Regions from separate parts of the Homo sapiens genome. Here region 2 is linked to region 1. Evidence: fine-mapped expression QTL. Tissue or cell type: blood mononuclear cells. Region 1 holds a variant in brackets; the other region holds the start of a gene. All regions are shown on one strand. Distances are between the middles of the regions.

The links. PIP is the estimated chance that this variant, and not a neighbour inherited with it, causes the effect.
Region 2: it holds the start of RAB3GAP2, and the variant in region 1 is fine-mapped to the expression of RAB3GAP2 in blood mononuclear cells (TOPMed, PIP 0.97).

What each region holds. Positions count from the first base shown.
Region 1 is chr1:220,194,033-220,199,185 of GRCh38, reverse strand. It overlaps RAB3GAP2 (RAB3 GTPase activating non-catalytic protein subunit 2), which reads left to right. Exons shown (of 35, transcript NM_012414.4): 10 at 2,788-2,936; 11 at 3,809-3,888; 12 at 4,019-4,108. Among named protein-coding and RNA genes, the nearest start is that of MIR664A, 4.0 kb to the left of the region's middle. The variant TA/A (reference allele first, on the strand shown) is at 2,782.
Region 2 is chr1:220,269,523-220,274,675 of GRCh38, reverse strand. It overlaps RAB3GAP2 (RAB3 GTPase activating non-catalytic protein subunit 2), which reads left to right and starts at 2,223. Exons shown (of 35, transcript NM_012414.4): 1 at 2,223-2,453. The coding sequence starts at 2,339. RefSeq lists an enhancer at 3,628-4,129.

The DNA of each region.
Region 1 (5,153 bases):
GCTCCTCCTTTTTTTTTCTACATCATCTTTCTTCTTCTGGTTGCTCCTTACCGTGACATACAAGGCCCAACTTTATCTGGCTTATGGTACCTCTGACACTGTCTCCTGTAGGGTTCCCCTCCCTGTTCATTGTGTTTCATCATGTAGATCTCCTTTGTGTTCCTCAGACACAGCAAGCATATTCCTACTCTAGAGCATTTAGAATTACTGCTCCCTCTGCCTGGAAAACTTTAGCTAGTCACATGGCTTTCTCCCTCTCTTCACTCAGGTCTCCTTATATATCACATTGTCAAAGAGGCCTTCATTAGTCACTCTACTAGGCCTAGAAAATTATCCAATGAGTTTGACTTTATGGAAACTTATATTGAGAGGGACTTTGATGTCTTTCAAAGTGTGGGAAGGCCTCAGACGCTCAGGGAAAATTCTAAATGACAAGGTAATAATAACTCCAGAAAAAAAAGAATGCACAGCCAAGGAAATGTAATTACAGTAAGTAGCATGTCTCAGCAGTGAGTAATGCTTATATCATTCCTAATAATAAAAACAGTGAATTTAATAAAACGTTGAGATACAAATATTTTGGAAGGATATAGGGCGAGAAAGAGAGATGTAAATAAGCCATACCACCTTAAGTTAATGAAAAATAGTGCTAAAATCAGTGACTCGAAAGATAAAAGCCCCCTAAATTCAGTACCAATGTGTAGCAATATAAAGGGCAGAAAAACACTTTAAATAATACTATAGGAATGTGGTCAGCTGTAGACTGTGGGAAATTAGTCTCAAACAGCCTTGTTGCTTCAACAAATAGATTTCAAAGGATCGAGGATGGGAAGGAAGGGTTGAGGAGGTCAGAAGGATTTTGGACCAAGCTTTATGTCCATTTGTTTGTGGTTCTTACTTTGAAACCCAGAGGTATTGTTTTTCTTAGCAATGATCAGCTATTTTGCTTCAAGAGCAGAGAATGCAGAAAGTTTAGGTCAACCAAGATTAAGATTTAGCCAGAGGAGTATGTGTGTAGGGGGAAACGAGTGTAGGGAGGTTGTGGATATTTGCAAGAAAGTGATGATGATGGAACACAAAGCTAAGCTGGATGGAAAGGGAAGTGATCCCAAGAGGTACTTGATAAATAGTGGAAAAAATAGTAGGATTAATTAGTTTAAACTCGAAATTGTGAAATTACTGCAGGGAGTTTCTGGAGTAATTGAGATGGAAAGCTAGGAGGTGGTGGTCTAAGTGTGGTAAGCTTGAAATCAAAAATACAAAGAATCTACAGTTGCTGATGACAGGATCTAAAGTGTGACATTGAAAATAGATGATTTAAGTTATAGGAAGGAAAACATCATTGGTAGCAAGGATGGAAAGGATTGATCAGCCATTTCCTTACAATAAATTAGAATCCTTTAAAAAAATTGCATATCTATTGCAAAATTGTCCTCTGGATTACTGTGTAGTAATTTATACTCCCATGTATATTGCATGGGAGTTTAAAAAGAAGCTGTTTTAAAACTTAAATTTCAATTTATGTGCCATATAGTTTGCCCTTTGATCGTGTTTTGGTGGAGTCAGGCAAAACTTAAGCAAATTTTGTAATGTAGTGAAAACATTTTGTATACTGAATCATGGATTCATTCATGACTATGAGATAGGTGTTCTGATCTTTTATAATGGTCTAGGAGGTGGGAGGGGAGTTTAAAAAATAGTCCAAGGATTTGTTTGATCACTTTAATTCCTATAAAGCCAGTGAATGGCTTGCGTATGAACTCACTCAAAGAATTTCCTTTCCTAGGACACGTCTTAAGGACGAATGCATTTTTTGACAGTTTTCAGGCAAAGGGGAGGCCTGAAATATATGTATATGAAATTTAGTAAGGTCAGGCACAGCAGCACACGCCTATATTGGCTGGGCACAGTGGCTCACACCGGTAATCCCAACACTTTGGGAGGCTGAGGCTGGAGGATCACCTGAGGTCAGGAGTTTGAGACCAGCCTGGCCAACATGGCAAAACTTCGTCTCTACTAAAAATACAAAAATTAGCTGGGCATGGTGGTGCGCGTCTGTAATCCCAGCCATTCGGGGAGGCTGAGGCAAGAGAATCGCTTGAACCTGGGAGGCAGAGGTTGCAGTGAGCTGAGATTGCACCATTGCACTCCAGCCTGGGCGACAGGGTGAGACGCCATCTCAAAAACTAAAAAAAAAAGAAGTGAATTGGTATTTGGGGATATAAGTGGACTGTATACTTCTGGTACCTCTGAGTTTCATATCTGTTCAAAAAATTAAATTTTGTTTTTATGATATTCTATAGATTATGGAAATTATAGATGGAAATTTTAATATTTATTATTATTATTTTTTTGAGATGGGGTCTCGCCCTGTTGCCCAGGCTGGAGTGCAGTTGGTGTGACCTCAGCTTACTGCAACCTCCACCTCCCAGGTTCAAGCAATTCTCCTGCCCCAGCCTCCCAAGTAGCTAAGATTACAGGCACCCACCACCATGCATGGCTAATTTTTGTATATTTAGTAGAGGCGGGGTTTCACCATGTTGGCCAGGCTGATTTCAAACTCTTGACCTCAAGTGATCCAACTGCCTTGGCCTCCGGAGTGCTGGGATTATAGGAGTGAGCCACCATGCCTGGCAGAATATTTTCTGATGTTGACTTTGTAGCTTTTAAAATGACTTTTGGTTATTAAATAAAACTAAACATTTAGCATCTTAGAATGGAACTGAAGTAAAAATGTAATGACCGCAATAACATTGTACATTCAAATCACTTTTTTTTTTT[TA/A]TTAGGTATTATGACTCTGTCCCCCTTTGATCAAATGAAGACTGCCTCCAATATAGGTGGATTTAATGCAGCAATTAAAAATAGTCCACCTGCCATGTCTCAGTATATCACTGTAGGGTCCAATCCATTTACTGGCTTCTTCTATGCTTTAGAGGTATGAGTTTTATCAATGATCATGAGTAAGGCTGCTCTTGATTTTACAATTTGTCTACAAATTGGATATGGTAACTTGCTTAGCCTTAGAAGATTAAGCAGTTTACATTTCTAAATTTCAATTGAAACTAAAATTAATCTCAACTAGCTTTCTTCTAAATTCTTTAGATTAACTGAAAAGGTACTACCATCAGTATAAAAGGAAATTCTTTGTTTCTGAAGCCCTGAGTTCTTTGATAGCTGAGATGTCTTTAAATATTGGTGCAATAGTCAGGAGCTCAGGCTTGTTAATGATGCCAGCCCACTAGGGATTTGAGTAAATGAGGAGTTGTAAAGACAGAACAAGCTGCCAACTATACTTGTTATAAGTGGTGAAAATTGCTTCCTAAAATAGTGGAAAGTTGAGTGTTAGATTTGGCAGCTCTTGTTTCTCACTTAAAAAGCATGCTTCTCAGAATTGTCCAAAATATCTTTTTACTTTTATAAAAATGTGTGTGTGTATATGTGTGTGCATATATATATATTTAAAGAGAGAAAGGAGCCAGTTATGTGTAGGTGTGAAATCCATAGTCCAGCTAGAATAATGTAATCTTAATGTCCTAGTTTAAAATTTATTTGAATGAAATTACAATTTAAAGAGAGAAATTCTAATGGTAAAATAGACTAATTGTGATTTTATTTTTAAACTATAGAGTTAAAACTTTTTCTCATATTACGCCTAAAATAAACTTTTTACTGTACTCTGAAAGAAGCTGAGTTGCTAGTCCAGCCTTTACAACTTTTCAAAGCATTTTAAAGTAAGCTTTATTTAGAAAGTATGTTTGTTTCTTTGTAAGCTACTAAGTTTTCTCTTTCAAATGTTCTGTTTTTCAGGGAAGCACACAACCATTATTATCCCATGTTGCACTAGCAGTTGCAAGTAAACTCACTTCTGCTTTATTTAATGCTGCCAGGTAATTACTTAACAATTAAAATAACAAATATCTCATTTGTATCTAGCTTGCTTTTAACTTATATTTTGATAGTTTGCACTTTAAAACCCTGGAAGCTCAGTTTTATATTCTAAGTTTTCTTTCTTTTCAGTGGTTGGCTTGGTTGGAAAAGTAAGCACGAAGAAGAAGCTGTCCAAAAGCAAAAGCCGAAGGTTGAGCCAGCTACCCCATTAGCTGTAAGGCAAGTCTGTCATGCTTCCCAAATTTTAGTCCTTTTAGAAAGGTACTGTTAAATGTATGGTCTTTCCGTGTGCTTGGTTGATTTGCTGATCTTGTCTTTGGAACTTCTGAAAGCCATTACAGTGGAATTTCTTTTCCCACTAGAATGTAAAACTCCATGTGAAGAGTGATTCTTACCTGTTTTGTTCACAGCTTTATCCCTGTTATATACTAGGTATTCAAGATGTATTTCTTGAGTGTGCTTTTTAACAAATAAACTTAGCTTAGTTGTAGGAGAATTAATTCAGTGATAGCTGTTAAATTTCTTTTAAAAGTTTAGATAGTTTGTTACTAAGTTGTATAAACTTTAAAAGTACTTAGTGATTTCTTTTTAAAAAAGTCATCCTAGTGGATTGCGGTGGCTCACGCCTGTAATCCTAGCACTTTGGGAGGCCTAGGTAGGCGGATCACTTGAGGTCAGGAGTTTGACACCAGCCTGCTCAACATGGTGAAACCTTGTCTCTACTAAAAATACAAAAATTAGTCAGGCATGATGGCATGTGCCTGTAATCCCAGCTACTCCGGTGGCTGAGGCAGGAGAATTGCTCAAACCCGGGAGGCAGAGGTTGCAGTGAGCCGATATTGCACTGTTGCACTCCAGAGTGGGGGACAAGAGCGAAAAACTCCATCTCAAAAAAAAAAAGTAAAAGCAGGAGTCCTGTATTCAGGCACTCTTTAAACAGACTCCTGTCCTGTGCTTCCTTGTTTACTTCAGTAGTGCTTTAGAATGTGTTAGTATATTGGTGAGTTTTTTTTGGTGGAGGGAGCATGATTTTTGTTGCTTTTTTTTTTCATTATTATTTTTTAGATAGGAGCATGTTTTCTAATGTTTGGTTTTGTTTTAAAATCATTTTTTATTACCTAATATAAAGTACCACCATGAAGGGAAATAGAACACCTCCTCTTTATGGATGTTCTTCACCTAAGAAGAGCCAACTAATTATTAAAATTTATCGAAGTATAGCTTCTAAGTTTTTTTTCATCTTTTTAAAAAATACATTGTAACA
Region 2 (5,153 bases), 75 kb before region 1:
CAGACCTCGGAGAGACACTGTCAATGCTGGGATATGTAAGGCCTGCACATTTTTGCAATGTGCTTTCTTATGACTGTGGAATAAGTGATATTCACTGTCTGATGCAATCCTCCCACATGCCGCAGAAACCATGGTAGCAGAACTCCAGAGGCATCCCCCCCTGTTGCATTACAACTTCCTGGGGGAAGAGTTCAGTTCATGAATGTGTTGTAATTTCTGTGAAGGGTATCTAAAGTCCTTAAAAACATCCATGAATGATCCTTTTCAACAGTACTTGGAAGGAAGTCAGGGACTTCACCATTAAAACTGAGCCAACACAGTAATGAAATTCAATGACCACCACAGGAGACATATGAATGCCTCAGGGAAGAACAAAGGCCAGCAAAATCAGCCAACAGCAGTTACTTCCACAAAATGCATTTACCTGAATAGGAACTTGAATGGTTTTCAAGGAATGACAGTCTCCTTCCAGAAAGTGTCATGTGTTTGTTATTCGTCCAGTAACACTAAGAATCTAAATTTAAATTTTGGTTTAGTTTGGGATTGGTGCTGGATTTTAGGGAATAATCTTATCAGGGCTGGATTATTCTAGTTAGTGATGATCTGAGGAAACACTGCATTTCTTCAGATGGAAGAAGGGAGCACTGGCAGCTTGCTTTTTCTGAAAGCTTTGATTACAGAAGTATAGGTCCCTGATGCTTAAAGGGACCTTACAGCACATCTGATTCAACTGCCTTTTATAGGTGAAGAACTGATTCCTGTTAACCTGATAACATAGAAATTGCCTATCCTATTTTGTGAAAATCATCCTACTCTAGAAGTAGGAAATAATGGAGTAGGAACCTGGGCACTAAATTATAGTTGTTATATTATTAGGACTAAGTGTGTATGTCCACGGGCCTGACAGAAATGAATGCTCTGGACCCCATCCACTTGCCTTTCATTTGTTCCTGTGCCCTTTTTTCATACAAAGTGGATGGCCTCTTTAGGTTTCCTTTAGGAAATGTGTAAGTGCCTACAGGCCTTTGTGCTCACATTAAAATAATTTTTTTTGTTTTTATTTTTTGGAAAAATAACTTAAAGTCTGCTCAGAGACAGCTCAATTTCTTTATTTTAAAAATGGGATAAGACACACTATTTTTAGATGGCATTTGTGACTATCCAAATGAACAATGTAAAGTACTTTCAAAAATAGTGCTTTGTCAAAGAAACAAGTTATTCTATTTACTTTATGTATGCATTCCATTTATTTCTTCAGCAAATATTTATGAAGCACTTACTAGCATGATCACAATTTCAGTTAAATAGTTAAGTACAGTAGTCCCCCCTTTATCCATGGGTTCATTTTCCACATAATTATTCAATTTAATTATTAGTTATTGTTAATCTTTCACTGTGCCTAATTTATAAATTTAACTTTATCATATATATGTATAGGTAAAAACATAATACACATACATAGGTTTCAGTACTATCCATGGTTTGAGTCATCCACTGGGGATCTTAAAACATATCCCCTTGGATTAAAGGGAAATACTGTAATTAATTGCTTACTGCCTGTATCAGTCACTAGAATTCCAGCTTTCTGGGAAAAGGTACTTCTTCTCTTTTGTTCTCTAATGCTCAGCACCCTGCGTGGCTGGCATTTAAAAGACTAACAAATATTTGTTGAATGGATGGATGAATGCATGAATGAAAAACCAAATGAATAATGAAAACAAAAGTGTATAATACACTATAACACGTACTATATTGGGCTTGCGTAGTACTATGGGAATCTATAGTAGGAGCATTTAAAGCCAGCCTTGACGGGGCTAATCTCCGGAAGAGCAATTAATCTTTTCAAAATCCGACTCTTGCAGGATACGGTCCCCCACTGGCCTGCCACTAGTTTAAAACGAATTAGTTTCTGTGAAACATCAGGATCGTGCCAATAGTAGGGGACCAATAAGACTGAATAAGTCAAAGGGCTGCGCGGACAAGTCCAATTAGAACACCTCTGGCTAAAAGCCAGAATGAATGAAAGGGTTCATGCCTCGGCGTAGACACACAACTGGGACTGAAAAATCTGCCCCAAGCCTCCACGTCGACTTTGGCTCCACCTGCAGCGGCGGCGCCGTAGTCACGTGACCCGGGCCCCCGCGCCCTAGGCGCCTGGGCCAGCCTGCGCCTGCGCAGTACTCGGAGACAGCGGACCCGTGTCAGTGACAGCTTCCGGTTTGGTTTCTCCGCCTTCTGCTTGGCTAGAGCTATTGGGGCTCGGTGGCGGCCGCAGTGGGGTGGAGGGGGCAGGGCGTGGTGAGGTAAGGTGAGTGCCGTAGTGGGGTTCCCTGGAGCCATGGCCTGCTCCATTGTCCAGTTCTGCTACTTCCAGGACCTCCAGGCCGCCCGGGACTTCCTCTTTCCTCACCTGCGGGAGGAGATCCTCAGCGGCGCCTTGCGGAGGGACCCCAGTAAGTGCCTCTCTGGCCTCGCCCTTCCTTCCCTCGTCACCCGCGGCCTCTGCTCACGGGTTCGAGTCTCCTACTCGCTCTGCGCCTCCTGCCTCTGCCCTCTGGACCCCCAGTTCTCCCCGTGCCTCCCCTCCGCTCCGGGATGACACCCTGCCCACCTCGTCCTGAAGCCCCATTTGTGTTGTCTTCCTCTCGACCCAGCTTTTCTCCTTAGGCCCTCTGACCCCTGGCTAAAAACTGCGTCTTGTTTCCTCTCGCCTCTGCCTATCACCGCTTTCTCCCTCCCTCCCCCCACCCCCACACATTCCTAGCTTTCTCTCTGAGTATCTTCTCCGTCTCCCATCTTCAGCCTGGGGTCGTTCCCTGTTTCATGTTGCCTGCTCCGTGATCGCATCCTCCCCGTTCCTTGCCACATGTCAGCGCTCCACTCTGGTATTGCCCCAGCTCCCACTCTCTTCCATCCCGGAGACTGTGGCCTTCTGCTACCTCCCATTCCGAAAGTGTTGATCATCCCCCCACACTCTCCCTTCTTTCATCTGCATTTCCCCCATTCAGATTTTGAGAACAAATGGCTGACAAATGAGTGACTCTTGAGGTAAGACTCTCTCAAAGAAGGAAAATAACCTGTCAGGAAGTGAACGAGAATCTACATTAGGAACTAAAATTACAGTGACATAGCCAAGAAAGGTTAATTTGCTTTATTGAAGCCTTCCACCTATTTTTATCATCAAAGTGTTTAATAAGCCTTTCCCCAAGTAGTATAAAGTTCCAAGGCTGGTTTATTAGATACTATATAGGCTTTCAGAATTTCGTACATTTCATTTTGAAAGGGTGTGCCTTGTGTTTTATTTTATTTTATTTTATTTTATTTTATTTTTGCATTTCCAACCTGAAGCACATTTGGCTTTGTAGTACAGCGCTCTCACTTTGTGCTATACCGGAATGGTGATATAAAGCCCACTAAGCTCCTCTCCCTTTTTTAGAAAATTTAGAAGATATCAAATCGAACCCATCTGTGAATGATTGCATACTTTGTGCCAGTCATTGGTGCTACAAACCAAATAAGGTTGGTGGACCCTGCTGTAGGAACTTCTGGTTTACAGACAAATCATTAACTTCCATTCAGTGTGACTGAGATATACATGAGGCATTTTCTTGAAGTGGTGATACTTAAGCCTACCTTTGAAGTACTAGTTAGAGGAGTAAAGGAGCAGTAATAGCATGTGCAGAGGAAGGGAGGCCTGAAATGGCATGGTATTTAGAGAACTAAGAAAAGCTGAATGGCTGGAGAGGAGGATGGGAGAGGAAGAGTTGGGGCAATGAGGCAGTAGTAGTAATAAGGAGCTAGACCATGAGAGGCCTTGTGAAAATTGTGGCGTTTCTCTGAAAGTTTAAGTAGAGAAATGACATTGTCAGATTTGTACTTAATGTAATCAACAACATTTGTTGAAGACCTGTAATGTGCTCTGGTAGCAAAGTGGAGGAGAGATTGGAAGAAGGGAAATGGATTGGGAAGCTCTTCCAGTAATCCAAGCAAGAAATTATGTGAGCTTGAATTAAGAACCTTAGTAGGATGAAGATGAAGGACTAGATTAGAAAGACGTTAAGGAGTTAGAATCTGCAGGACCTTGTGAAGGTCTGGTGATGGGCATTGTAACTAGTAAGTGAGGGGGAGTTTAGGAAGTCTTTGGCTTGTGGTTTGGGCAACTATATGTAATAAGAGAATGAAGGATACAGATTTTCAACCTTTTGCATTTTAAATGTTTATGGTATGTCCAAGTAAGGACATCTGGTTGAACACCAGATATAGATAGTCTAAACAGTAGGGAGTACTGGGCCAGAGATGTTAATTGGGGAGCTAACAGCAAAAAGTGTCAGTTCAGTCTCAAGGATTATGTATGTTGTGAAATGCACTGAGTACTAAAGCTGTAAGCTTAGAGGAGCACTGGTGTTTAAAAGTCAAGTAGAGGTTACTGGGAAGAAGACTGAGAAGGAGTAAAAGAAAGAGGAAAATCATGTGAGAGTAAGGCCCTCGGAGCTGAGGAAGGCGAGAACTTGATGAGGGTGAGGAATGGTCAGCAGTTTTGCAAATGCAGCAGGGGTCAGGTAAGAAAAGGATAGAAAAATGCTTATTGGTTTTGAGAAGGTGGAGGTAACTTGGACCTTAGGACAGTTTCAGTAGGATAGTGGAGGCAGAAAGCATAGTTATAGGATAAGGGGTTAAAAAGTGAAATATACTATTTCAAGGAGCTTGGCTGTGAAGGATAGCAGATGCAGGATTGTAGATAGGGAATGTAGAAAAAAGGAACAGATTTTCTTTATCCTTCTACCACTCTCCTGGTCCAGGCCACCATCTTTTCTCAACCTGGGCTATGATATGATATGTGTCTTCTTCTAGCAATTCTTCCTGCTTTTGCTCTTGGTTTCCTGTAATAATTCTCAACAGTAGTTACAGTGAGCTTTTAAGGCATAATTTAGATCACAACATTGCCTTTTTTTTTGAGATGAAGTCTCACTCTGTTGCCCAAGCTGGAGTGCAGTGGCATGATCTCAGCTTACTACAACCTCCACCTCCTGGGTTCAAGTAATTCTTCTGCCTCAGCCTCCTGAGTAGCTGGGACTACAGGCATGCGCCACCATGCCCGGCTAATGTTTGTATTTTTAGTAGAGATGGGGTTTCACTATGTTGGCCAGGCTGGT